Homo sapiens: one gene and its partners. The protein of the gene in region 1 interacts with the protein of each later gene in a pairwise test. Each region holds a gene or a part of one and is shown in the gene's direction. Other genes may lie near its edges.

The links.
Region 2: the proteins of PKN1 (region 1) and ADAMTSL4 interact in binary tests that used the Homo sapiens proteins (3 or more experiments, as listed by UniProt).
Region 3: the proteins of PKN1 (region 1) and C2orf15 interact in binary tests that used the Homo sapiens proteins (3 or more experiments, as listed by UniProt).
Region 4: the proteins of PKN1 (region 1) and MIER1 interact in binary tests that used the Homo sapiens proteins (3 or more experiments, as listed by UniProt).

Annotation. Positions count from the first base shown.
Region 1 is NC_000019.10:14,436,301-14,443,323, forward strand, and holds part of PKN1 (serine/threonine-protein kinase N1), read left to right. Parts: intron 1-3,976; exon of another isoform or gene 3,977-3,990; coding exon of another isoform or gene 3,991-4,029; intron 4,030-4,842; coding exon 4,843-5,143; intron 5,144-7,023. UniProt on the Homo sapiens protein: PKC-related serine/threonine-protein kinase involved in various processes such as regulation of the intermediate filaments of the actin cytoskeleton, cell migration, tumor cell invasion and transcription regulation.
Region 2 is NC_000001.11:150,545,200-150,552,408, forward strand, and holds the start of ADAMTSL4 (ADAMTS-like protein 4 isoform 1 precursor), read left to right. Parts: upstream 1-4,208; 5' UTR 4,209-4,300; intron 4,301-4,622; 5' UTR 4,623-4,696; exon of another isoform or gene 4,697-5,077; intron 5,078-5,090; coding exon of another isoform or gene 5,091-5,861; exon of another isoform or gene 5,862-6,077; coding exon of another isoform or gene 6,078-6,092; exon of another isoform or gene 6,093-7,005; coding exon of another isoform or gene 7,006-7,089; coding exon 7,090-7,109; intron 7,110-7,209. Other genes in the region: uncharacterized protein LOC124904417, read left to right, coding at 5,091-5,861. UniProt on the Homo sapiens protein: Positive regulation of apoptosis. May facilitate FBN1 microfibril biogenesis.
Region 3 is NC_000002.12:99,137,238-99,144,715, forward strand, and holds the start of C2orf15 (uncharacterized protein C2orf15), read left to right. Parts: upstream 1-4,469; 5' UTR 4,470-4,700; intron 4,701-5,047; 5' UTR 5,048-5,164; intron 5,165-7,478. Other genes in the region: TSGA10 (testis-specific gene 10 protein), read right to left, coding at 3,831-3,902.
Region 4 is NC_000001.11:66,921,161-66,928,012, forward strand, and holds the start of MIER1 (mesoderm induction early response protein 1), read left to right. Parts: upstream 1-3,829; 5' UTR 3,830-3,868; coding exon 3,869-3,935; intron 3,936-4,172; exon of another isoform or gene 4,173-4,374; intron 4,375-4,981; coding exon 4,982-5,082; intron 5,083-5,173; exon of another isoform or gene 5,174-5,212; intron 5,213-6,852. Other genes in the region: DNAI4 (dynein axonemal intermediate chain 4), read right to left, coding at 3,502-3,671. UniProt on the Homo sapiens protein: Transcriptional repressor regulating the expression of a number of genes including SP1 target genes. Probably functions through recruitment of HDAC1 a histone deacetylase involved in chromatin silencing.

The DNA of each region.
Region 1 (7,023 bases):
GTGCAGTGGCTTGATCTCGGCTTACTGCAAATTCTGCCTCCTGGGTTCACGCCATTCTCCTGCCTCAGCCTCCCAAGTAGCTGGGACTACAAACGCCCGCCACCATGCCCGGCTGATTTTTTTGTGTTTTTAGTAGAGACAGGGTTTCACCTTGTTAGCCAGGATGGTCTAGATCTCCTGACCTCGTGATCTGCCTGCCTCGGCCTCCCAAAGTGGTGGGATTATAGGCATGAGCCACCGCGCCTGGCCTCTTTTTTTCTTTTTTGAGACAAAGCCTGGCTCTGTTGGCCAGGCTGGAGTGTGATGGTGTGATCTCGGCTCACTGGAACCTCTGCCTCCTGGGCTCAAGCCAGCTTCCCACCTCAGGCTCCCAAGTAGTTGAGACTGCAGGCACATGCCATCACACCTGGCTAATTCTTACATTTTTTGTAGAGATGGGGTCTCACCGTTATTGCCCAGGCTGGTCTCGAACTCCTGAGCTCAAGCAGTCCTCCGGCCTTGGCCTCCTAAAGTGCTAGGATCACAGGCAGAGAGAGCCACCACACCTGGCCAATACTTTTTTATTTTTTGTAGAGATTTTTGTAGGTCTTGCTGTGTTGCCCAGACTTATCTCCAATTCCTGACCTCAAGCACTGCTCCTGCCTCAGCCTCCCAAAGCGCTGGGATTACAGACGTGAACCACCACACCTGGCCAAATCTATGACCCTTAACCGTAGGCTTCTCAGCCTTAGCACTACTGACATTCAGGGCTGGGTCATTCTTTGCAGTAGAGGCTGTCCTGTGCACTGCAGGGCGTTGAGTGGCATCCCTGGCCTCACCCTGATAGAAGTCACCTCCTTACCCACAGTCAGGACAACCAAAAATGTCTCCGGATGTTGCCGCATGTCCCCGGGTATGGGGAGAAAATCTCCCCTCAATGGAAAACTGTTACTGGCCAGGCACAGTGCCTCACACTTGTAATCCCAGAACTTTGGGAGGCCGAGGCTGGCTGATTGCTTGAAGTCAGGAGTTTGAGACCAGCCTGGCCAACATGTGAAACCCCGTCTCTACTAAAAATACAAAACATTAGCTAGGCGCAGTGGCACGTGCCTGTAGTCCCAACTACTCAGGAGGCTGAGGCAGGGGAATTGCTTGAACCCGGAAGGTGGAGATTGCAGTGAGCCGAGATTGCACCACTGCACTCCAGCCTAGGCGAAAGAGCAAGACTCTGTCTCAAACCAACGAACAAAACATACTACTGTGACTTCCTTGAGCCTCAGTTTCCTCACCTGTGAAGTGGGGAGTTCTTGGCAGCTGCTCAAGATTTGTAGTGAGGGTTGGGAAGATGGTGGGAGTGATACACTTGGTCTGTGGCATTCCTCCCTGGGGGCAGCTGCGCTTGAGATCAGTCACGAGCCAAGGATAACATTCCTTGTCTGTGAAATGGATGCTCCCAGCTGAAGGAGATAACCCCAGGGGGCCATTTCCTAGCCAGCATTTGGAATCTGGGTGCTCTTGTTTTAAATCAAGGCCCTGGCCACGGGGCAGTGACTCACACCTGTAATCCCAGCACTTTTGGAGGCCGAGGCAGGAGGATTACTTGAGGCCAAGAGTTCGAGATCAGCCTGGGCAACATAGTGAGACCCCATGTCTATGAAAAATACAAAAATTAGCCAGGTGTGGTGGCGTATGCCTGTAGTCCCAGCTGCTCGGGAGGCTGAGCTGGGAGGACTGTTTGAGCCCAGGAGGTAGACACTGCAGGGAGCCATGATCACACCACTGCACTCCAGCCTGGGCAACAGAGTAAGACCCTGTCTCAAAAAAAAGAAAAAAAGTTACATGAGATATTCAACTTTACTGTAAAATAGCTTTGTGTTAGACGTTTTTGCCCAACTATAGGCTTGGGTAAGTGTTCTGAGCACATTTAAGGTAGGCCAGGGTGAGCTATGATGTTTGGTAGGTAAGATATATTAAATGCATTTTTGACTTATGATATTTGCAACTTATGATGAGCTTATCAGGAAGTAATGCCATCATAAGTTGTTCTTGAATGTTACTGTGTGCTTAGCAAGTGGTTTTGTAGGCTGCTGATTTGGGGCATTCTTTTTTTTTTTTTTTTTTTTTGAGATAGAGTCTCACTCTGTCGCCCAGGCTGGAGTGCAGTGGTGTGATCTCGACTCACTGCAATCTCCACCTCCTGGGTTCAAGCGATTCTCATGCTTAGCCTCCCAAGCAGCTGGGATTACAAGCACGTGCCACCATGCCTGGCTAATTTTCATATTTTTAGTAGAGACGGGGTTTCATCATGTTGGCCAGGCTGGTCTTGAACTCCTGACCTCACGTGATCTGCCTCGCTCATCCTCCCAAAGTGCTGGGATTACAGATGTGAGCCACCACGCCCGGCGTGATTTTGGAAATTGGAAATTCTTTTTTTTTTTGAGACGGAGTTTCGCTCTGGCGTGCAATGGCACGATCTTGGCTCACCTCGACCTCTGCCTCCTGGGTTCAAGTGATTCTGCTTCAGCCTCCCAAGTAGCTGGGATTATAGGCATGCACCACCAAACCCGACTAATTTTGTATTTTTTTTTTTTTTTCAGTAGAGACGGGGTTTCTCCATGTTGGTCAGGCTGGTCTCGACCTCCCGACCTCAGGTGATCCACCCACCTCGGCCTCCCAAAATGCTGGGATTATAGGCGTGAGGCACCGTGCCCGGCCTGGTTTTGGAAATTCTTATCCCAGTCCCCCAGTGCTGTCCCCTAATTGTGTTGGCCTGAGGGAGGTGCCACTGGGCTGGCTGGGACCCCGGGCCTCTCAGCTATGGTCAATAACAGTTGGCGACTGGACTGAGAGGAAGCAGGAAGTTGGGAGGGCCCGTCTGCAGGAAAGGGGCCTCACCTCTGAAGAAGTGGCTGTTCTGACCCTGAAGGGGAAGCCGGGGACAAGGGGTGGCTGGGAGAGTCTGGAGGGACATATGCAGGTAGTCGCAGGGCTGGAGGTCTGTGGGAGCATGGATGTGCTGCAGGGGCCTCGGGGAGCGTGCATATGTGTGTGAGCATGTGCACACGCATGAGCATGTGGGCCATGCCCTCTCGGGCAGGTGGGAGTGTGTCTTGTATGGGTTCTAGAGGGAAGCTCATAAGCACTTGTATGTGTTTGCAAATAAGTGCATATGTGGTAGGCATGGGAATGGGTACACTGTGAGCCCATTTTCCAGGCACACACCTGCAGGTGTAGAAGTGTGCACCTGTGTGTGGATCTTTGTTTCATCCACACACACAGGCATGGGAGTGTGCACACATGTGAGCCTGTGTTGCAGGCACACACCTGCAGCCATAACTGTGCAAACACAGGCCAGGCGCGGTAGCTCACGTCCAGTAATCCCAGCACTTTGGGAGGCTGAGGGGGGCGGATCACCTGAGGTCAGGAGTTCGAGACCAGCCTGGCCAACATGGTGAAACCCTGTCTCTACTAAAAATACAAAAATTAGCTGGGCGTGGCGGCACATGCCTGTAATCCCAGCTACTTGGGAGGCTGAGGCAAGAGAATTGCTTGAACCTGGGAGGCGGAGGTTGCAGTGAGCCAAGATCACACCAGTGCACTCCAGCCTGGGCAACACAAAGGGAGACTCTGTCTCAAAAAAAAAAAAAAAAAAAAAAAAAGGAAAGAAAAAGAAAGCGTGCAAACATTTGTGAGCCTGTGTTCTGTGCATATCCACATATGTATTTGAAAGTTAGTGCACACTCAAGTCAGCCCTCGGAGCCTGCGTCCCCTCATGGATACACCATGAGTGTGTGAATGTACAAACTGCCTGCACCTTGGACATTCTCTAGGGACAGGGAGCAAGGACTGTCCCTGGGTTTCATCTAGAGGAACAGGAGGTCCCTTAGATGCCCTGGAGTTGGCCCCGCGCGAGGGGTGCTGGGAGTTGACAGGAAAGAGGAAGTGGCAGCCGAGAGGCCCTGGTGGGGCTGAGGTTCAGGAAGAGGGCGGGGCCCTCAGCCCGGACCCAGGATGGCGGAGGCCAATAACCCCTCGGAGCAGGAGCTGGAGGTGGGGTCCAGGGTCCCTGTGGGGGCAGGCAGAAGGGGGCCCCAAGTGGCACAGGCCAGTAGTCCTTCCCCGGGTACTTCTCAGTTTGGGAACAAGGAGAGGAGATGGGGCACTGGCCTCAGAGTTCTCTCTCTGGAGGATGAGAGTATCCAGTGCCCTTCGGGGCTCCCAGATTGGGGAGAGACAGAAGGAAGGAGACCGGGCTCTGTTCTTTAGGGTCCCAGTTGTTGAACATAGGAGAAGAGCAGATGAGGGTCTTCAAGACCCCATAGTTTGGGGGTACAGCAGAGAGAAGACTTGGCCTGCCCTTGGGATACCCTAGTTTTGGGGGTGTAGCCAAGGAAAGATGAGGCCTGCCCTCGGGATGCCATAGTTTCAGGGTACAAGTGAGGGAAGATGGGGCCTGTCCTCAGGACCCTGTAGTTTTAGGGGTACAGCAGAGAGAAGACAGGGCCTGCCCTTGGGCCCTCTTAGTTTCGGGGAGCAGCAGAGAAAAGAAGGAATCTTCCCTTGGGACCCTCTAGTTTGGGGGAGGCAGCAGAAGGGAGACAGATCTTATTCTTGAGACCCCCTTAATGTGGGGGACGCTGTGGTGGTGGGGGTGACAAGGCCCTGCTCTTGAGACCTCCCAGTTTGGGGAGGTCAGGAAGCAGTGGCAAGGCCTCGTCACCTTCCAGTTTTGGGAGTCAGAGGAGGTAGAGCAGGCCCTGTCTTGGGAGCCCCAGTCCAGGGCAGAGGCTGGGCCAGGCTGGCTGCATGTGGTCTGCACCTGGAGTTCTCCTAGCTCCACTGACCCTGTTCTGTCCTCCGCAGAGTGAGCCTCGCAGCTGGTCCCTGCTAGAGCAGCTGGGCCTGGCCGGGGCAGACCTGGCGGCCCCCGGGGTACAGCAGCAGCTGGAGCTGGAGCGGGAGCGGCTGCGGCGGGAAATCCGCAAGGAGCTGAAGCTGAAGGAGGGTGCTGAGAACCTGCGGCGGGCCACCACTGACCTGGGCCGCAGCCTGGGCCCCGTAGAGCTGCTGCTGCGGGGCTCCTCGCGCCGCCTCGACCTGCTGCACCAGCAGCTGCAGGAGCTGCACGCCCACGTGGTGCTTCCCGACCCGGCGGCCACCCACGGTGAGCTGGGATGCCTCTGGGGATGCGGGACTCCAGGGATTCCACTGCTCACTGGCTCACCCATGGTCTCCAGAGCCAGGTTAACCCATCTCCACGGACCCCCAGGGAGATGCATGCCATGACCCCCGTAGCCACCAACACCCAGAGAGGTGCATACAGCCACACCAGCACCCGGTAACACTCAAGACCGTGCATGCTGTCACATGAATACCTCTAGACACAGCCACGCCAACACCCAGGCAACATTCAAGGATGTGCATGCAGTCACACAAACACCTAAAAAAACAGCCACACCAACACCCAGGCAACACCCAAGGGTGCACATACTGTCACACGAATACCTCCAGACACAGCCACGCCAACACCCCAGGCAACACTCAAGGATGTGCACACTGTCACACGAATACCCAGAAACTCCCACAGTTACATGGATGATAACCAAAGACTGTTTATTTTTGTTTTTGTTTGGAGACAGGATCTTGCCTTGTCACCCAGGCTGGAGTACAGTGGTGTGATCAAAGCTCACTATAGCCTCAATTTCCTGGGCTCAAACAATCCTCCCACCTCAGCCTTCCAAGTAGCTGGGACTAAAGGCATACACCACCATGCCTGGCTAATTTAATTTTTTTTTTTTTTTTTTTTTTTGTAGAGAAAGGGTCTTGGTATGCCGCCAGGGCTTGGCTAGAACTCCTGGCTTCAAGTGATCCTCCTGCTTTGGCCTCCCAAATGCTGGGAATACAGGCGTGAGCCATTGCACCCAGCCTGTTTTTTAATTTAAAACATTTTTATTGGTTTTAACATTTTTTTTCTTTTTGAGATGGAGTCTTGCTCCATCACCCAGGCTGGAGAGCAGTGGTGCAATCTCAGCTCACTGCAACCTCCACCTCCCAGGTTCAAGTGATTCTCCTGCCTCAGCCTCCTGAGTAGCTGGGACTATAGGCTTGCACCACCACGCCCGGCTAATGTTTGTATTTTTAGTAGAGATGGGATTTCACCATGTTGGCCAGGCTGGTCTCAAACTCCTGACCTCAACTGATCCACCCACCTCAGGTGATGTGCCTCCCAGAATGCTGGGATTACAGGTGTGAGCCACCTCACTCAGCAGCTTGAATTTTTTTTGGTGGGGAAGGACAGAGTTTTGCTCTTGTCACCCAGGCTGAAGTGCAATAGCACGATCTCGGCTCACTGCAACCTCCACCTCCCAGGTTCAAGTGATTTTCCTGCTCCAGCCTCCCAAGTAGCTGGGATTATAGGCATGAGCCACCACGCCTGGCTAATTTTTGCATTTTTAGTAGAGACGGGATTTTGCCATGTTGGCCAGGGTGGTATTTAACTCCTGACTTCAAGCAATCCGCCTGCCTCGGCCTCCCAAAGTGCTGGGATTATAGGTGTGAGCCACTGCGCCCGGCCTCAGTCATTTCTGCACCCAGGGTCCCCTCAAGCATCACACCACTCTCCAGAGACTCATGCAGACACATGCATCCGGATGTGCCAACACCCGGAGACTCAGTCATACCAACCTGGAGATCTGAACTCACAGTTGTAGCAACAGTCAGAGATGTACGCAGAGCATCTCCCAACACCCACAATCTCAGACAGTCATTCTAACACATGGCGTCTCACAGAGTTACACTAACACCTAGGGAAACACACACTCAGCCATGCCAACACCCTGCAGCTCACAGATGGCACCACTCCCACACCCATAGGCTCACACAAGCCATGTACGTAGTTACTCATGGGCCTCTCAAATGCAGTGGACCCAGCACCAAGGACACACTAACACACCTGGGTGCTCGCCTGCACTCATTCATCCTGGGTTCTGCCCCAGCCCCGAGGGGTTTCCCTGGGAGGGTGGGTGGGTAGACTGCTGGGCCCTG
Region 2 (7,209 bases), on another chromosome or scaffold:
GAGCCACAGTGCCCGGCCTTAAAAACTTCTTTTTAAAAATTATTTATGTATTTGTTTATTTTTGAGACAGGGTCTTGCTATGTTGCCCAGGCTGGTGTCAAATTCCTGGGCTTAAGCAATCTACCCACCTCAGCCTCCCAAAGTGCTGGGATTACAGGTGTGAGACACCGCACCCAGCCTAAAAACTTTTTATCCTGGAGACAGTGTCCACAAACTTAATCTGGTATTTCACAAGTTGCTGAGGCATAGGAAACTCTTTTCTTTCTACAATATTTTCAGACCACCAAGCCATGAGAGGTGACAGCAGTAGCAAATCTCATGAGCTCTTCGGTGAGCAGCCATTTCTTAGTGGAAAGGACTGTATCTGACCTTCAGTTCTCAGCAGTTACAAATGTCAAAGGCAGACCTTTTCTCTCCTCCCAGGCTCCCCTCCCACACTCCTGTCCTGCAGCTTCCCTCCCTGTAGATAAGTGAATGCTGATGAGGTGTGACTGGGCCAGGACTGAAGGGTCCCTGGCCCAAAATATCTTCCTCTGCCCGGAAGGCTGGGCTTCTCATCATCTATATCATACTCTGAGGTCTGGGGAAAGGGGCTTCCCCTTCAAAGCTAGCACTATAAATATGTCTCCAGGTTGTCACCAGGAGTCCCTAGATAAACCACCCCTCTGGGAGGGGCATTAACCTTTTATCTTCTCAACCCATGTAGGAACTCAGGACTCAGATGGAGGATGAGGAGAGGCACCTCCCAGAGGCGCAGGTCAATCTGACCCGCTTCATGTTTCGTGGTGTACTTCGTGTTTTCAAGTTGTTGTTGTTGTTTCAGTGACTTATCAAAAAAACAAAACTCTAATATAAAATAGGAAAAAGTATAGATGATACAAAGTAGCATAAATAGTCCTTTATTCTGAAAGAACTTAGTGATTTACCGAGAAAAAATATGCATGTTAAATTTCAAATAATGATACAATTCTTTTTCTCCTTTCTTTTTTCTTCTTCTTTTTTTTTTTTTAGATATGGGGTCTTGCCATGTTGCCCAGGCTGGACTTGAACTCTTGGCCTCAAGTGATCCTCCCACTTCAGCCTCCCGAATCGCCAGGACTACAGGTGCCTGCAATTGTACCCAGCTCGGGACACAATTCTTACATTTTCTTTTCTTTTCTTTATTTTTTTGAGGCAGAGTCTCGCTCTGTCACCTAAGCTGGAGTGCAGTGGCATGATCTCAGCTCAATGCAACCTCCGCCTGCCAGGTTCAAGCAATTCTCCCTGTCTCAGCCTCCTGAGTAGCTGGGATTACAAACGCCCACCACCACACCCGGCTAATTTTTGTATTTTTAGTAGAGATGGGGTTTCGCCATGTTGGCTAGGCTGGTCTTGAACTCCTGACCTCAGATGATCCGCCCGCCTTGGCCTCCGAAGGTGCTGGGATTGCAGGCATGAGCCACCGCGCCCGGCCCAATTCCTACATTTTGAAAGCATTTTACGTTTTCATATCCATCATCTTCTTAGAGATAACATCTCCTTCAGCTGAGCCCAGTATTAACCTTCGCATGACCCCATTACCTGCCGTGTCTGTGCCTGATCAGACCCAACTCCTTGAGGCCAGAGACTTCTTGCTGCTTCTTCAACACCAAGTGCAAAAGGCGCCCAAAAAATGACAGGTGGGGAACCAAAGACCTCTGATATTTTGTGAGGATGCAGGACAATGTTGTTAGAGCTTCTATTTTTGTGTTTTAGTTTTTCAAGAGAAATTTTAAAATATCCAGGTTTTAAAATACGTATTGACAAGTTATTTAAAAAAAAAAAATGTGCCTTTAGGTTGGGCCCAGTGGCTCACACATGTAATCCCGGCATTTTAGGAGCCCAAGGAAGGAGGATTTCTTGAGCCCAGGAGTTTGAAACTAGCCTGTCTTAAAAACAAAAAACAAACAAACAAAAACCTTTAAAACACTGAGTAGACCCAACAAAATACAACGCGTCAGTAAATAGAAAGTAAAAATATAGGCCGGGAGCAGTGGCTCATGTCTGTAATCCCAGCACTTTGGGAGGCTGAGGCGGACGGATCATGAGGTCAGGAGTTCGAGACCAGCCTGGCCAACATGGTGAAACCCCATCTCTACTAAAGATACAAAAAATTAGCCAGGCGTGGTGGCTCGTGCCTGCAATCCCACCTACTCAGGAGGCTGAGGCAGGAGAATGGCTTGAACCCAGGAGGCAGAGGTTGCAGTGAGCTGAGATGGCGCCATTGCACTCCAGCCTGGGTGACAGGACAAGACTCCTTCTCAAAAAAAAAAAAGTAAAATATAAAAATAGCAGTGACCATTTATTGTCTACTCTATGCCAGCCATTTTACATATTTTATTTATTTATGTGTTTATTTTTTGAGACGAGGTCTCTCTCTGTCGCAGGGGCTGGAGTGCAGTGGCACGATCATAGTTCACTGCAGCCTCAAACTCCTGGGCTCAAGCAATCCTCCCCGCTCAGCCTCCTGAGTAGCTAGGACTACAGGCTTTCACCACCATGCCCAGCTTACATATATTATTTATAATAAATAATAGCCAGGCGCGGTGGCTCACGCCTATAATCCCAGAACTTTGGGAGGCCGAGGCAGGAGGATCACTTGAGGTCGGGAGTTGGAGGCTAGCCTGACTAACATGGAGAAATCCCGTCTCTACTAAAAAATATAAAATAAGCCAGGCATGGTGGCGCATGCCTCTAATCCCAGCTACTTGGGAGGCTGAGGCAGGAGAATCACTTGAACCTGGGAGGCGGAGGTTGCAGTGAGCCGAGATCGCGCCACTGCACTCCAGCCTGGGCAACAAGAGTGAAACTCCATCTCAAAAAAAAAAAGAAAAAAAAAAGATAAAACTAATAGATGGATTGCTCTTGTGGTTAAAAAAATTCACAAAAATAACATTACATAGCTGGGTGCGGTGGCTCACGCCTGTAATCCCAGCACTTTGGGAGGCCGAGGCGGACGGATCACGAGGTCAGGAGATCGAGACCATTCTGGCTAACACGATGAAACCCCGTCTCTACTAAAAATACAAAAAATTAGCCGGGCGTGGTGGCAGACGCCTGTAGTCCCAGCTACTCAGGAGGCTAGGGCAGGAGAATGGCGTGAACCTGGGAGGCGGAGCTTGCAGTGAGCCAAGATAGCACCACTGCACTCCAGCCTGGACGACAGAGTGAGACTCCGTCTCAAAAAAAATAAATAAATAATAATATAATAATAATAAACATAACGCAGAGTAAAAAGCAAAAGCCTTTTTCAGTCCTCCCCCAACCCTGCATCCCTCCCCAGATGTCACCAATACTACTGAGTTTGGGGTGCATTCTTCCATGTATAAATGCATAAAGAGACATATCCAAGCCCATCATATATATTAGATTAGTCCCATTTTGCAGATGAGCAAACTGCACCACACAGGGGTGGAAGTATTCGTCGAAGACCACATAGCTGGCAAGAGCTGGAGCTGAGGTTCAAATCCAGATCAGTCTGACTCAGAAGTCAGCACGCTGTCCTTTCGCTGAGTCCCGAGTGTAAAACCTTACTGAGGAAAAAAACCGAAGCTCATAGAAGTCCCAGCAATCTGAACCACCACTGCCCAACACGGGAGAGGCAGGAGTGACTGAGTTTGCAGGGGAGGCTGCGTGGAGGGGAGAGCCTGGACCCACGCGGATCGGGGGCCGCGGGTACCTCCGTCCAGGGCGCTTCCCTCCCGGACCAGCGGCTCTCCCAGGCCGCCTCGCTCCAGGCGCCCCTGGAGGCTGCCCCGCCTGTGCCGCGCCGCGCCGCGCCGTGTTCGCACCGCTCACCCGAGCGGCTCGGAGGCCCGGGTTGCTTAAGTCCCTAGTCTCAGCCGGGCACGAGGACAGCGCCCGGGAGCGACTGCAGCCTCTGACCCCGGCTGGGCCAGCCCGGGCTGCTTAAGTCCCTAGTCTCGGCCGGGCACGAGGACAGCGCCCGGGAGCGACTGCAGCCTCCGACCCCGGCTGGGCCAGCCCGGGCTTCAGCTCACGCAGCCGTCGGGGGGCGCCCGGCGCGCAGCCCGGGGTGGGTGGTCCTGGCGAGTGGGGCTGCGAGGCAGACCGGCCCCACCCCGGGGCCGCCGAGGGGCGCGGGCTGGGGCGCGTGGCGGGCGGGGCTGGGCGGGGGCGGGCGCGAGGGCGGAGTTGCGGCCGAGGCGGCCGTGACCGGAGCGCGGCTCAGGGGCCCCAGTGGCCGCCGCGGAGCGAGGTTGCCTGGAGAGAGCGCCTGGGCGCAGAAGGGTTAACGGGCCACCGGGGGCTCGCAGAGCAGGTAGAGACCTCCCCGGGACCCCGGCCCCGGCCGCCCCTCTCCCGGGTCCCGTTAGACCGCCCGCCCCGCGCGCCCGCGTCGTCCCCTCTCCCTGCGCTGTGCGGTCGCGACCCCGCCACGACCCCGGACCCAGCTCCGGTGGCCTCGGACAATCTTCCAGCCCCTGGGGTCGAATTCCTGGGGAGGGAGTCTGATCCCGTGGAACTCTGGCCCCATCACCCGGGCGGGGAGTGAACCAAAATTCCTCCTAAGTCACATAGTAAAGTTGGAAAACAGACCCATGACCTCCCCGCGCGGCCGGTGCCTCCTGCCCTCTCTCTAGGAGGGTGCTCTCGGACGGTGTGTCCCCCACTGCACTCCTGAACTTGGAGGACAGGGTCGCCGCGAGGGACGCAGGTGGGTGCCCTTGATCCAGCTCAGCCCGATGGCAGAAGAGGTTGACAAAAAAGAAAGACACCTGTTGGGGTGGCCTGCCAGACCCAGGAGTGGAGGGCTCTGAGGGCCCGGGAATTCGGACTCAGGACAGGGATTCTCCATGGCTAGGCCCAGAAACACAGGGTCCAACCACTCTCCAGCAGGGAGACCTGGGGGTGAAGGGGTGAGCCCTGCGCAGGTCTCTGTTCCTTGGTCTTCACTGGGCAGTGTGGAGAGGTGTGGCCAGGAGGAGCCCGCGTTTGTCCAGACCAGGGTCTACTCTGGCACCAGAGTGACCACCTCTGACCTCTCCTTTCCTCGTCCTGGGCCGGGAACGACACCAAATGAGGGACATGGAAAGGGGTGAGAAGCATAAATGTGCGTGTGTTTCTGCAGAGGAGGGGGCATGGGCCCCTGCCGGGCTGCGCAGGGGAGGGTGGGGTGGGACTTTTCCAGAGAGGGAGCCAGGCCTGGCCCGGGCCCCGGGAGCTCACGTCACCCCCACCCCTCACTTCTCCAGGGAACTGCCAAAGCCAAACCCAGCTCGGGATGGGATTATGTGTACTGGGTAGACCCGTGGAGAGGGGCTGCGAGAAGAGATCTCGGTGGCAGAGAGAAGCAGAGGCAGAGAGGGCATGAAGAGGGGTCGGCATCAGAGAAGGGGCAGGCAGTGACTATCACCCCATTTCTTCTTCCCTCAGCTGGAGTAACAAGAGTCAGGCAGAGCCTGAAGACTTGGGTGGAACATGGGCCCTTCTCTGGAGATCCTGGCCTCCCCCGTTCAGTCAGGGTGGAGTTGCTGACCTTAGTGGCCGGCCCAGCCAGGGGAAGGAGTGGCCATCGGCAACCCCCACCCCAACCCCAATCCCTGAGGCGCCCGCTCTGGCTCAGCCACTCTGACCCCTCCCTCAAATTCCGAACCCTAGGTCTCAGGGAGGGCAGTGGGGCTGAGTGTCTGCCCCCAGGCACATTCCTACCCTTCTCTTGGTCATTTTCTGCCCCAGAGCTGGCCCACCTCAGCAATGCGAGGGCTCCCTGGATTCCTCTCCCGGGTGCCTTTCAGATCCAACAGAAACAGATTTTTTTTTTCCTGGAAAGCAGAACTAAGAGTGGGATGAGGAGCAGGGGTGGGAAGGACTCAAAGTGAGAAGAAGGGGGCAAAGAGAGTCAGGCTTGGTGGCTGGGGTGGCTTCCAAGCCTCACTTCTCCAGTGTTCAAAGCTGAACTTCAGATGGACTTCCCGGCTCTTCAGAATGAGAGGCCTGTGGCTGGGGCATGAGGCAGCCCCGGCTGCACCTCTCCTTCCCGCTTCCCCAGCTGGTAGAGACGCACAGGAAACAAGCCCTCACTGAACCAACTCCAGATGCTGGCACCCAGAGTGGGTGTTACATTGCCGGCTTCTTCTCTAGAGATTAAACCGTCAACCCATTTAGCTTATCCCTTGGCCAAAAAGTGTATGAGATGTGCCTGGATGTTCCCTAAAGAGCTTATCTAAGAAGGGAAGAGAAAGCCGGGAGGCAAGTAGGACAGAGAGATGACTGGGGAAGGTCTTGTGTCTGGAAGACCCAAGGAAGGGGCTTCTGGTGGGTCCTCAGAGAGAGTGTCTGGCGCATCCTCAGTGGAGCCTTCCTCCTCTACTTTCTAGGCACCTCTGGGAGGGCAGGAGTGGGAGCAGATGACAACCATTTTAGAAGGAGCCCTCTGGCTGGGTGCGGTGGCTCACACCTGTCATCCCAGCACTTTGGGAGGCCAAGGCAGGAGAAGCGCTTGAGGCCTGGAGTTCAAGACCAGCCTGTGCAATTTAGCTGGATCCCATCTCCACCAAAAAATACCAAAATTAGCTGGGTGTGGTGGTGCACGCATGTAGTCCCACCTACTCAGGAGGCTGAGGAAGGAGAGCCTGTGAGTTTGAGGCTGCAATGAGCTTTGGTGGCACCACTGCCCTCCAGCCTGGATGACAGAGTGAGATCTCCATCTCAAAAAAAAAAAAAAAGCCTTTTGTGTGTGCCTGAGCCGGCTTAGAAACAGTCCCTAGGTAGGATTTGGGGAGGAGCTAAGAAGCCCCTACAGGGCCCAGAGGTGGGGACTGAGCCTTAGTTGGAGGGCTGAGGTCAGCCCCTGACCATGTAGCCTCTACAGATGGACAAGGCAGTGATCCTCCCTGCTCCCACCCTGAGGATCCTAAAGGGATGGACCAGTTTCACCCCCTCCTCCATATTCTCTGAGCTGTCCTCCCAGCCCCAAGCTCTCTGGACACTGGAGAGGTAACCACCAGGCTTCTGTCCCTGCAGAGAGCACCCTCCACGCCCAGATGCCTGCGTAGTTTTTGTGACCAGTCCGCTCCTGCCTCCCCCTGGGGCAGTAGAGGGGGAGCGATGGAGAACTGGACTGGCAGGTGAGAGAAGGGGCCACGGGTTGGGGGGGAGGAAAAGGGGAGGTGCTGGGATGGCTCTGTGTCTGGAAGTGAGGGAAAGGGGACCACTGGGAGGGGCAGG
Region 3 (7,478 bases), on another chromosome or scaffold:
ACCCGCCTCAGCCTCCCAAACTGTTGGGATTACAGGCGTGAGCCACTGCACCCGGCCAAGACTCTGCCTCTTAATGTGATCACCTTAGGGGTTAGAATTTCAACCTAAAAATTTTGTGAGGACACAGAAATTCGGACTGAAGCCACACATTAGAGGAACAGAAAGAAAAAGCTATTGGGCGAACAAAGAAGGGAGTACTAGATCTTGTAAGTGAAGACAAGGGCCAAATCATGTAAGGCCTTACAAAGTTTGGATTTTATTTTTAATTGCAGTGGGAAGCCATTGGTGTATTTTTGAGCCAGGATCATCTTATTATAATTTTCTTTTTCATTTTTTTTTCCCTCTCCCTTCTCCCCTCCCACAGGATCTCATTATTTTGAAGTGATTGATATGATATCAGTGTGGAGAATAGGTTGTAGGGAGCAACAGTGGAAGCGGAAAGATAGCAGGGAATGGTTGCAGTATTTTAGGTGGGAGATGATGGTGACTTGGACCAGGGAGGTGGTAACAAAAATATAGAGAAGTGGATGGATTTAGGATATATATTTGAACCAACAACATTTGCTAATAAATTAGAAGGGATTTATTGCAGTGAGCCGAGATCGTGTCACTGCACTCCAGCCTGGGCAACAGAGTGAGACTCCATGTCAAAAAAAAAAAAAAAAAGGCACAGCCATGATGAGTTGCCTGTATATAATAGGCCCCAGAGAGCTCCCTTGCCCCTTCTAACATATGAGGACAGAGTCTGAAGGTACCATCTATGAACCAAAAAACCTCAGACATTGATTCTGCTGGCAACTTGGATCTTAGAATTCCCAGTCTCCAGAACTGTAAGAATTAAATTTCTGTTGCTTATATGTTATTTCATTATAGCAGCCTGAATGGACTAAGATATTTGCCAGTAACATTTGACTTCAGGTCCTCTGCTCTTGCTTTTCCTCTCTCAGGAACACTTTCTACCCAGCCTTTCACATGGCTATCTTCTCACCCTCAGCTCTTTGGCTGAAATGTCAGAGGGTCTTCCCTGACTTCTTACCTAAAGTAGCCTCTCTCCTAGTCACTCTCTCAAATAAGTGATAAGCTATTTGCACTTATCACTACTTGAAATTATATCATTTGCTGACTTGTTTACTATCTCCCCATACTAGAATATAAAATTCAAGAGCTCTAGGCTTTTGTCTTGTCTCTGTTTTATCCCTAATGCCTTAAAAGTGCCCAGCACAAAGGTGAAACGCAATAAAACATTTTCAAAATAAGAAAATTTAATGATTCGAACAAAGCAGTTTCAATGGTGGGTGAAAACAAGTCTGAAGGGGACTAATGAATGAATAGTAAAGAAAAAGAAATGGAAAATGTAAACTTCTTTTAGGAAGCATGATTGTGAGAGGAAGAGAGGTACAACAAAGGTGGAAGACAACCAAGGTTGTGGAAACGTCATTATGGGAAGAGAAAAACTTGTTCCTTAATTCTCTTTACATAAGGATCCTCTTTCAGAATTAAAAGTCCTGCATCCTCTCCTCAGAAAAATGCAAATACACCTTTACAAACAATTTCAGGGGATTTAAGACTCTATAAGGTCCTTGGACTCCAGGTGAAGAAGCCCTACAGTACAGAAACAATGAAGATTCCTAAGGCATGAGTTAATGTTAATTGATGGAGAAAGACAGCTGAGGTAATAAGAGGAAACCCAGATAAAGATGTATTGCCCCGACACAAGAAAGACAAAAGCAAGGACAGGTGAAGATTTAGACACTTGTAATCCCAATAATCCCAACACTTTGGGAGGCCAAGGCCAGAGGATCACTTGAGCCCAGGAATTTGAGACCAGCCTGGACAACATAGTGAGTTCCTGTATCTACAAAAATTAAAAAATAAATTAGCCAGGCATAGTGGCATCCACCTGTGGTCCCAGCTACTTGGGAGGCTGAGATAGGAGAATCACTTGAGCCCGGGAGGTCAAGGCTGCAATGAGTCATGATCGCACCACTGCACTCCAGCCTGAGCGACAGTGAGATCATGTCTCAAAAAAAAAAGGTAAGTGTCATGGAAATCTGAGGAAGTTTCTGTCTGGTTGAATTTTAATTTTTCAGTGAAACAGGAGCTAAGATTATATAATAAAAAGTATCATCGGTGTTGAGCAAAATATGAAGCACATAATATGTATTCAACAAATTATTGATTTTTTGATAGAATGGAAAATACTGGAGTACTTCAATGGAATTCTGAAATCTGGTTCCACAAAAGCTTACTACAGTTGAGGTGGGTTTTTCTTTTTAAAAATATTGTCTCCAAAAGTGTAGACTTATAGACATTGAAGTAGAAAGGAACTGCCTCACTAACAGAAGGATGTGGAAAACCATACAAGATTTATGAATAATTCTGAGAGAGTATTTTATATAATAAAAATAAGTGGATAAATATTTTGGGAAACAATCAGCAAACTAAATACTGCGAGCAACAATAAAGATTAATCTTAAAAAAAATGTTGAGTAAAGAAGCAAGATGTAAATGAATACTTAGTACAATTCCATTCGAAGTTCAAAAACAAGCCAAACTGTAATGTGCATGTTCACATACAATGATGTGAAACATTAAGGAAAATCAAGGAAGTGGCTATCTTAGAAGTCAGGAGAGTGGCTATCTCTGGGGAGGGAAAGAAATATGTAATCTGAAAAGGTGATAAATAGTAATACCTCTAACTGCCTCTGTGTATGGAGGACTTCAAAACCAAATCGTCCTAAACAAACTAGTCTAAGCAACTCAAAAAGAAGACAGAAAAGATCTCCCAGAGAATCTCTACACCTGATTATATTCTGGGCTACAGGCAGTGATTTTTCTTCAGAAGGTAAACAGTACGCGAGATATTGTGGAAGCTGCCATTAAATAATGCCAAAGTTTAGGATTTAAAATTAATATTTAATTAATGTACCGTCCTAGTTATTTCCCACTAATTAAGACTGAAGAGTTTGGCTCATTAATCAATTAAAATACAAACAAGAATCTGTCTTATCCTGGAAGCAGATTCGAATGCGACATCCTACTTCTATAACTAACCTGTTTTTTTCTACTTACAAACCTATTGTTATTCTACTTATGTCCTTACACGTAAACAAAGTATACTTGAAATGCTGAACACCAGTACAGAAAATTTTAAACAAGGAAATCTCCTAGGATATAAGGTCCTGGAATGGAAGAAGGAAAACGTTGGGACACTATAATCTATGCAAACTTTCCCGAAGCTGCGAAAAAAAAAAAGTGAAAAAAAACCATATTTCTGTGAGTTTTTAGGTATCAAGTCCATGATCACCTAGTTATCCAATTTAAGTCTCAAATAGTTTTTCAACAAAAGCCAGCTTTCCCTGCCTTTACTGTGTATAATTTTTACTAAAATTATCTGAGATTTTCATGCAAATGCCTATGTAATCTCAGCCTTTCACCACCCCAAGTCTAGAAAGAGGCTCAGAAATGAGCGATCGGGAGTCAGGCTGAACTCCCAAATCTGTGACTTCCAAATTCCTCGGCTCCACCAGAGCTTCCAGAGCGTTTCTAAACTGAACAGTCTCCCCAACAACCAAGCGGAGAGCTGCGGGAGGACGCGAAGCAGTGACCATAGGAACTGGGCTCAAACCTAACCTCCCAAGAAACAGGGGCAACTCGTGCTGCCGAGCTTCCGGCCGGCAGCTGTGCCCGCCGCTGCCCCTCACAGCCGCTCCCGCTGCTAGCGCCCAACTCCGCCCGCCACGGCCCCGCACCCGCCACTCCTGCCCGCTTGCAGCCGCCTTCTCAGAGACCTTCCAGTCCAGTAGCAGCACTCTCCCCACCCCGCGCACCTCCGCAGCTTCTACCTGGAGCTCCGGGTCCCTCCCCGGGCTCCTCGGCCCGCCGTCCTGCCCAGAGCTCATCCCCGCGACTGTCAGCTCTCGGCCTCAGCGGGGGATACAAGAACCGCCCACTCTCCATCCTCCGCCCCTTTCTCCTCCCTTCCCACCCCCAAATCGTCCTGGCCCCGCCCCGGCGGATCGGAGGAAGGACGGAGCCCGCGGGAAGGAGGAGGGGGCGGTTAGCGCCAGCCAGTGCCGCCGTGGCCCCGCCCTCACGCTCTGTACCGGAGTGGGGCTCGTCTTCCACCTCCCCGGCGCCCCAGCTTTGCTTCCGTCCCGCTCGCCCCCAGGCCCGGTGCGCACGCGTACCTGGCTCGACCTTCCTTCTCGCGGGGTCTACAAGCCGTGCGCGCGCTCCTACGCACGGAGCGACGCGTACGTCTACCTGCCTGCCTTACAGGGCACCTAGGAGGGACCCCTTCCTGGCCCATCCGCGCCGCGCAGGCGCACGCCCACGCAGCGCCTAGACGCCCGAGCCGAGCGTCCCGTCTCCTAGTAACCAGCCGCTAGCCCCCTTTTCCACGACTCATTTCTTAATCTCTGCCTGAGGCTGCCGCACCTGGATGGAACGCGCATGCGCAAGGCTGTCTCTCGCAGCCCCGCCTTCCCTCAGCTTGAAACACCTGCTGCTTCGCGGCGGTGGCTTTGTGCCACTTTTCCCAGGGCTTGGGCATCATTCTGGACCCATGTTCGGTGAACCGGTTACTCTCAGAGCTGCTTTCGGGCGCAGCTCCTGCTGCAGCCAGGGCCCGTTTTAAGAGAGGCTTCCAGGTCCAGCCCTCCCGCTGCAGCCTGCAGGGAGCGAGCCGGCCTGTCCCGGTGAGCGTGGGCAGCCTGGAGTCAGGGGAGCCTGGGGACCACGGCCTTGGTCAGCTCTGCACGATCAGGGCTGAATCAGGAAGTGGCAGATCTAGCAACAAAGTCCAGATTCCTGACCGATATTCCTTCTCCACATGCCAGTCCTTTTCCAAATCCCCTCACCTTAAAGTGACAAATGAGCTTTTTAGTGAAAAAGAATGAGCGCTGCATTCTTCTACCAATTTTTTGGAGCCCAGAATGGGGGGGAAAAAAGTCTTCTTAATTTTTCTTAATACCTACCATGTCCCTTCTTAAATAACTCAAGAGCTTCTGGATGATAATGGTGACTTTATCTCCTTTTCCTGCAGATGACATAGACACTAGGTTTTTACAGCAATTCTCTGATGACCTTGATATGGTAGAACGCTGTGTATTTCAAGAGTAAGCTCTCGTTTGAGGAGACTAACAATTCCTGTTTTCGCCAGGTGAGTACTCATTTTTCCCCCCACAAGATATCATTGGCAGGGATAAACAACTTTTGTGTAGAACAAATTTAGTCATAAAAATACATTTAATATAAATGCCATGTTTTTCCAATGTCTTTTCATCGTGTTATTACATGGTCTCATATTTTGTCGCATTTATTTTCAGATATCATATACTTTGTAAGTATAATTAGATACCAAAAAAAATTAAGTGTCCCTGTTATTTTAGATTAAGAGGTTAGAGGACACAAGGAGCACATATCCTCGGAAATGTAATTTTTTAAATGCACAAAATAACAAACTGAGAAGTTATGTTAGAGGGAATAATGTATAATCTCATTTCCTCTTCAGATACTAAGATTATTTTGAATACATTATCTAGCATTATTAAAAACAAATAGGAAAGAATGTTCTAAGTTTAAAACTATCAGCTGGAGTTGAAGACTTCGGGGGTGGGGAGATTATTAATATAGGAAGTAGGAAAGTACTTCCCTTATAGAAAGAATAAGAAAAGTTTAAGCACTTATGTATGCCACCTAGACGGTACTGAAGATTATTTGGAAAGAATATAAGGAAATGATCATTTTAAGGCCAAAAGAGGGTGAAAAGATTTTCCTTTTTTTTCCTATCAAGAACTGTTGACTTTCTCCCCTAACCTGAGAAAGTAAAAATTTCCTTCCCTCTGTGGAAACCCAAGGGGTAGTGAGTGTCCCACCCTGCCCCAACTAAACCTTTTTTTTTTTTTTTTTTTTTTTTTTGAGACAGAGTCTCACTCTGTCGCCCAGGCTGGAGTGCAGTGGCACGATCTCGGCTCACTGCAACCTCCGCCTCCCGGGTTCATGCCATTCTCCTGCCTCAGCCTCCCAAGTAGCTAGGACTACAGGCGCCCACTACTACGCCCAGCTTTTTTTTTGTTTGTTTTTTGTTTTTTGTATTTTTAGTAGAGACAGGGTTTCACTGTGTTAGCCAGGATGGTCTTGATCTCCTGACCTCATGATCCACCCGCCTCAGCCTCCCAAAGTGCTGGGATTACAGGTGTGAGCCACTGCGCCCAGACTTTTTTTTTTTTTCCTTTTTTTTAAGACAGAGTCTCACTCTGTTGCCCTGTACCCAGGCTGGAGTGCGTTGGCATGATCTCAGCTCACTGCACCCTCCACCTTTCAGGTTGAAGCAGTTCTCCTGCCTTAGCCCCTTGAGTAGCTGGGACCACAGGTATGTGCCACCATGCCCAGCTAATTTTTGTATGTTTTTGTAGAGATGCGGTTTCACCATGTTGCCCAGGCTGGTCTTGAACTCCTGGACTCAAGTGATCCACCCACCTCAGCATCCCAAGTGCTGGGATTATATGCATGAGCCACTGTGCCTGGCCCAGGCTAAGCCTTATATAGTACCCTGTGCTTGCTCTCTCGTGACAGACACCTTCTAAGGTCTTGGTTTTCTAGTCCCTTAATTTTTCCATCATTTCAAAAGCTTCACTACAAAAACCTCTGTTATTACTATTTTTTGTTTTGTTTTCACTGTCCTCTTCCTGATCCCCTCAAAAAAAAATCTGGGACTCCAATTCCATATGTGTTAAGCCACTTGATCTTGTTCCACAGCTCACTGATGCTGTGTTCCTTTTTTTTGTTTGTTTTTTTGAGATGGAGTCTCGCTTTGTCTCCCAGGCTGGAGTGCAGTGGCGCGATCTCCGCTCACTGGAAGCTCTGCCTCGCGGCTTCACGCCATTCTCCTGCCTCAGCCTCCCGAGCAGCTGGGACTACAGGCGCCCACCACCACGCCCGGCTAATTTTTTTGTATTTTTAGTAGAGACGGGGTTTCACTGTGTTAGCCAGGATGATCTCGATCTCCTGACCTCATGACCTGCCCGCCTCGGCCTCCCAAAGTGCTGGGATTACAGGCATGAGCCACCGCGCCCGGCCTGTGTTCCGTTTTTTAAATCAGAGAGTTTCCTCCTTATGCCGAGGCCTGAAAGTTCCAGGCAATGTCCATTCATAGGGCTCACTTTATTTCCTGTTTCTCAAGGATCACTCTCCCGAACTGCCTGTTGTCCAATATCTAAAAGCCATTGCTTCATGTGTTTTGTGTTTTGATGCTGAAAGCAGGCGGGGCACGGTGGCTCATGCCTGTAATCCAGCTACTCGGGAGGCTGAGGCAGGAGACTTGCTTGAACCCGGGAGGCAGAGGTTGCGGTAAGCCGAGATCGTGCCATCGCCCTCCAGCCTGGGGGACAAGAACAAAACTCTGTCTCAAAAAAAAAAAAAAAAAAAAAAGATGCTGAAAGCATGAGGATAAGTCTGGTCTCTGTTACTCCATC
Region 4 (6,852 bases), on another chromosome or scaffold:
TGTAAGCAGAGATAAAAACATTAAATAAGAATCAAAAGGAAACAAGAACATGTAAGGAATATAAAGGCACTGGACAGAGAAATAGGATGAAGAGGTGAACAATCAGCAGTTATTTTTATTGCAATGGGAGACTTGTCCAGTATTGTAAAGCTAAAGGCAAGAATCTAACACAGGAAAAGAGAAAGTGGAAAACTGACAAATATTTGCTTCATGAGATCCTTTCCAAGGTCAGGATTAAGTCCTAAAAGAAGGAAGATGAGAAATAACAAATTAGGCCAAACCAAAAGGTTGTAAACTTGTCTGTGAAACTTCGTTTTAATTAGGTAACATGGCTACTGCAAAAAGTGAAGGTTATACTACTTCCCGTCTCCCACCCCATTCTTTCCTTAATAGATGTTATGAAATTGTCAACATTTAAGAAACTCCCAAAGGAATTTTTCTTAGACATCATACTATGAGAGTTGGACAGTTTTTGTATTTTTCAATTTAATAAACTCAATTTAATTTTACATTAAAATTTCTATACCTTAAGGTGAAAACAAAAACCATACAAGATAAGCAGTAACCAATGTTACTGAAGTAAACACTCATTCATTCAGCAAATATTTATTCAGCACCTTCTTCAATCTAGGCAATGGATACAGTAGTGAACAAAACAAAAATCTCTGCCTTTTTGGAGTACTATCCTTAGGTGAAGATGGATGAATAAGCAGGTACACAATAAACTTGTAGAAATTTTTTTTTTTTTTTTTTTGAGGTGGAATCTCACTCTGTCGACCAGGCTGGAGTACAATGGCAGTGATCACGGATCACTACAACATCACCTTCCCGGTCTCAAGTAATCTTCCCACCTCAGCCTCCAAAGTAGCTAGGACTACAGGCACATGCCACCACGCCTGGCTCAATGTTTTGTAGAAATGGGGGTTTGCCATGTTGCCCAGGCTGGTTGTGGACTCCCAAGCTCAAGTAATTTGCCCACTGGTTGTGAACTCCCAAGCTCAAGCAATTTGCCCACTTCAGCCTCATAAAGTGGTGGAATTACAGGCATGAGCCACTGTGCCTGGCAGGAATAAATTTTATGGAAAAATTCAAGCAAAGGTGAGGGACTGAAGAGCTCCAAAGGTGAAGTATTATTACTTTATATGGGGTGGTAAAGGACTCTTTGACACAGTTACCTAAAGGAGGTGAGTCATGAGGTTATCTGGGGGCACAATATTCCAAAAAACTGCATATGCACAGGCTCCAAAGGGGGAATATAGTGTGTCTGATGTGTTGTGGGACAACGTGGGATGTAATTAGGCAAGAGGAAGAGTCTATAGTGAGATCCTGTGGGGCCCTGTAAAGAGTTTTACTGAGTGAAATGGAAAAAACTTGAGAAATGTTTTGAGCAGAACCACATTGATTACTACCTGGAGGGTGTTGGCAAGGAGACTATTTAGGTGGGTATCACAATGTAACACAGTGATTTACATGGGAGTGGTAGTCTGGATTTATTTGGCAGGTAGAAATGGTAAAATTTGCTTATAGAGTGAGGTATAAGATAGAAGTCAAGGGTAATCCCAAGGTTTTTCCCCTGAGTAAGTGAAAGAGTGGAATTTGCCATTTACTAAAATGAGAAAGATTGCAGTTAATTAGAAAAGACAGAAAATATTATATATTTGGTTTGAGATGTTTATTAACTTATAAGTGCAGGTGTTTTTTCTTAAAATCTGTTTTCTTGGGAGAGGTCTTAGCCAGAGATTAACATTTGTGAATCATCATTATAGGTGATATTAAAGACATCAGAGTGAAGAGGTTTATGGACTAACCCAGCAATACCAATACAGTCCTGGATCATCAACAATGAATCACATATACAATGGTGATCTGGTAGCAGAGCTGAAAAATTCCTATTGTCTAACAACGTTGTAGTTGTCACAACATTCAAGCACAAGACATTACCTTTTCTATGTTTACATACACAAATACTTAGCATTGTGTTACAATTGCCTACAGTATTCAGTACAGTAACATGCTATGCAGGTTGGTAGCCTAGAAGCAACAAATGCATTTTCATCATTATGCAAACACCATTTAGTGTACTTACACAAACCTAGATGTATAGCCTACTATAGCTTAGGTGTACAGTCTACTATACAATTGTAGCCTAGGTGTATAGTAGCCCATACATCTACGTTTGTGTAAGTACACTAGAAGATATTTGCAAAATGCTGAAATTGGCTAACAAGGTATTTCTCAGAAGGTATCACCATCGATGCATGACTGTATTTAGTTATGGTAGTGAGGAACAGATACCAGCAAAGGATCTGGGAAAGGTGAAACCATGAACCAAGACAAGAACTAGGAAGAGTGGTTTCTCAGAACCCAAATAAAGCTTTTCAAAGATCGAGAAGCGATAAACCCGACCGACACTGCTTCATTCAAAAAGAATGAAACTGTGGATCAGCCATTGTATTTGGTTGCATGGCTATTGCTGGCTTTCATAGAAGCTGTTTTGATGGAGTGGTAGGATGGACAAAAGCGTGAGTACCATATTCAAGAGAGAATGCAAGGTTCTCTCCCAAGAACTCTCAACAAGTTCCGCTGAAGAAAGATTAGCTGAGGTGGAGGAGATTGGAGAGGGGAAGAGAAAACAAATTACTTAGGGAATTTTGGGGGAACTTAGTGGGCAGCATTACGGGCAGCGCTAAGGAACCATTTAAAGTAAGACAAGTCCACACAGCTGTGTGCTTTTCTACAGTCTTGTTCAACTGCTGCATAACAACAGAATGTTGGAAGCAGGAATTAGTTTTAAAGTAAGATGGTATTGACGAGACGACAATAAAATACCTCTACTACAGAGCACAGCAATGTTCGGCCTGGTGGCTCACAGAAGCTGAGGCTCTTGAACGTCTGGGCACAGCATGAAAGCATCAAGCTTGAGAGACTGCAGGCCTTAACAAACTAGAAGTGCTAGAACGATGGTTCTAAACCAGGTCTTTTCTCACACAGCAAGCACAGCAATAGAGATTTATTTTATCTTATTTTTTAGACAGAGTCTCGCTCTGTTGCTCAGGCTCGAGTGCAACGGCACGATCTCGGCTTACTGCAACCTCCGCCTTCCGGGTTCAAGGGATTCTCCTGCCTCAGCCTCCCAAGTAGCTGGGATTACAGGCATGTGCCACCACGTCCGGCTAACTTTTTGTATTTTTAGTACAGACGGGGTTTCACCATGTTGGCCAGCCTGGACGCTAACTTCTGACCTCAGGTGATCCACCCCACTCGGCCTCCCAAAGTGCCGGGATTACAGGTGTGAGCCACCGCGCCCAGCCCAGTAGAGATTCTTTTAAAGACTGCGGTAGGTCGATAAAGGAGACATTGTGGCCTAGGAGCTTCAAGGTCTACAGACTGAACCCAGTTAGGGTAGGGCCCCTTTCCAAATCCAGAAATGGTATCTATTAATAGAAGGGCTCCCTCCGGGTCCCAGGGGGATGGACTACGGTTTTTAGCGCCGGAACTTACAACCCGAAGTTCTGCTGCTTGTGACTGCCTGCCGGAGAGACTGGCATGGTGGCGACCAGCTGGGGAGTGGTGCACCACCCCTTTTTTTGGCCGCCTCTGAAGTCCCTGTACCCCCAAGCTCCTCCGTTAGCGGCTCGGGCCGAGGCTCCGGAATGTTTGCCGGGCGTCATGGCGACGGTGGAGCCCTGGCTCAACAAGCGGCCGCGCGGTTGGCTGGCGGCACGAGGCCGAGGAGGAGGGCGGAGGCGGAGGGGAGGGCAGAGGGTTGGTGGAGCTGGAGGAAGCTCCGGACGACGACTGGAAGAAGGAGGCGGGCGGCCCGGGCCTCAGGCCCCTCCCAGGCTCTGAGTCTCCCGGCTGCAGGCGGATGGATGGGGCTTCTTCAGGCGGTGGCGGCAGCAGCGAAGGTGGCGGCGGCAGCAGCGGCAGCGGCTGTAAGTGCAGCCTCCACAAGCCATCTCTCCCCTTCTATTCCAGTTTGGGATGAGGGGCTCCTGAGGTGTCCTCAGTCCCCTTTCTCTCCTTCCCCTCCCCCACGGCAGTGTACCGCCCGGAAGACCCTTAACTTCCGGGGAGGGGCTGCCGCAGAACGCGCCTGGCTTGCTCTCCGCCGGCTGCCAAAGGCGCATGCGCAGCTTCCTCCCTCTGGCCATCGACTGCCTCCCAGCGCCGCCTTTTTGCCTTCGCGGTGGTGGCGCCGCGCTGGGAATCCGCTGCGGAGTGAGTTCGCCTCGCCCCGTTCGCTTCGGTCCCTGATCCCAGTCGGGGTGGGGCTAAGCTGACCACCCTGCTGTGGCTCCGCCTCTTTCTCCTGTATTTCCCTCACTTGTGTCCCATCCCCGGGAGGCTCTCGCTTGCACTGCAGCCTTTATGGTGAGCAGCGCCCTGGGCCAACTTGCCCTTTTCGGATGGAGTCAGGGAGGGAGGAGAGACTCGAATAGGGTATTACTGTAAGGAAACGAGGTCCTCCTAGCGCGTGGGAGGATCCCTTGGGACAGATGCCCGCCGCTCTTTACTCTTGTTCTTTCAGCTTGTAGTGGCTAGGTCCCTGGCCTGGAGCCTATCTGTGGTCCCTGCATGCTGTGTAACCTTGAGCGAGTCACTATCCCTCTCTGGGCTTCAGTTTTCCCTATTTAAAGCTTCCTCCAACGCTAGAATTCTGCATTTCTGCAGAAGAACTTATGTAATTACAAGATTGACTTGGCTATTGAGGCCGCTTCACCAAGATGACCCGGAGTTGACTGAACCTTCTTCACTTATGGGTGGAATGAGGCGACCTATTTATTGGGTCGCTTTTATTCCTTTATCATTAGTTACAAATTGCATGACTTAAGGCTCATTAAATGTTTTTCTAAAATTGTCATGGGATCCTTGTCCTGATTCCCGACCATCTTTTTAAAAATGCGAAACAGGGTGGATGGTGAGCTTGTATCATCGTTTCTGTCTCCTTGCTACTGAGGCTCTCTTTCCTTTGATCCAGATGGTGTGGTCGCTCGATTCTCCCAGTGCCTGGCTGAGTTTCGGACGTGGTTAAGAACCAACTGGTTGAGGTTCAATGCAGACAAGACGGATGTGATGCTGGTAGGCAGGGGTACACTTGGAGATTAAGGGAGGGAAAATCCAAACTCCCTCAAGTAATATAAGATTATATTACTCTTCTTATATGTTCCAGTGTTTGAGAACTGATGGGCCAAAAATTTCCAGAATTTGGGTGAGATAAAAATAACATGTCATCAATGTAAAAACCATAATCATAGTTTGTAATATTCTGATAAAATGGGGCCACTGGATAAAACTGTAAAAATTATGAAAAGAAAATCCAAAACTGTTATTTGAAGAACCAAAAGCCTATATAAGTGTTTTAGAGTGGCATTAATAACAAAAAATGAAACTAACGAAAGATGATGCTGATTGTCACTATAGATGTGGGGCTTCCAAATGTAATAGGCTAAGTTTTTTAGATGTAGGTATTTTCAACCAAATTAGTAATTATCCATAAAATTTTACCACCACATCATAAAGACATGGTGTAGGCTGTTGCTTTTAAATAAAAATTTCAGGAAATAGTTTATAAACTAATCTCAAAAGAGACTCATGGACGCTGAAAATTGTTAGATATAGAATTTTTTAGTTTTGGATGTGTTGTATTAATCTATTTCAGTCAGCTAACCCCAGAGTCTAAATTGTTATAAGTACAGTATTTTCTTGGTGCATTTTGAGAGGTACCTTTTTGGATTGCATAACAGATAGGTTTATATAGTATATATATATATGTTACTTGTATTTGAATCAGGTGTTGGTACTGAATAAAAGGTTATATTTCTTAGGTATATGTAAATTGCCAAAGAAGTTTGTTCATTGGTTCGTTTAAGGTACTGGTTGAAGTAAGATTGTGCTCCTAAATGCTTTTGTTAAAAGCATAATAATAACTGAGGGGTTTGTGTGTGCGTGCGCCTTATAGCCTCTATAGAATTGTTCAATAACTTTTGAATGGAAGATTCAGTAAATTGCTTACAAATGATTTATCAATATAATAGCAGTTTTGAGTAGCTTAATGTCATAAAAATTAATGTTACTTTGCCTGAAAATAAGGAGGCTTTTAGGTGGGGAATAGGAGCTGAAGAGGCATTTATTCAGGCTTTGTATAGTGGTTTTTTGTTTTGGGACATTAATCACAAACCTCACATAAAATTGGAATTCAGCACACTTTTTTAGTTTAAAAATTTTATACACAATTCCAACAGAACTACTGTTTTGGATATCACATTAATAAATAACAAAGTGTAATAATTTTAAGCAGACACAATTAATGGTGCATTTTCTTATGCCTTTAGCTCTCTCATGTCCTATTTTCAACTCTTCTAGTATGAATAGGCTTTAAAAATAAATTTTTTTTTGTTAACCCAAGTATAAATATTAACTGTTTGCATTTGGATACAAAGAAGATATCTGTTGAATTAATCCAAAGTGCTGAAGAACTAAGGGTAATGGATGGAAACAACAAGGAGGTAGATTCTGGCATAATAAAAGAAAGAATGTTTTAAACATTTGAACTTTTTTTGAAAAGAGCAGCCTTTTTATGAGATATAGTGAGTCACTGGAGGGGTTTAAACATAGGCAGAAAGCCTGGTAGTAGAAGCATGATGAGAGATTACTATCTTGACAGGGTAGAGAATTGACTAAAAGATCTCTAAGGTCCCATCCAACACTAAAATTCTATAACTAGTGAATAGTTAATTTTTATATATTTAATACTGAAGAGGGTAAGTAAGCGTTTTGAGAAAGACTTTTCATTCCGTAAGGTGGCTCCTGAAAATTTTACAGTTAGGTGTATCACTAAAATAAAATAAT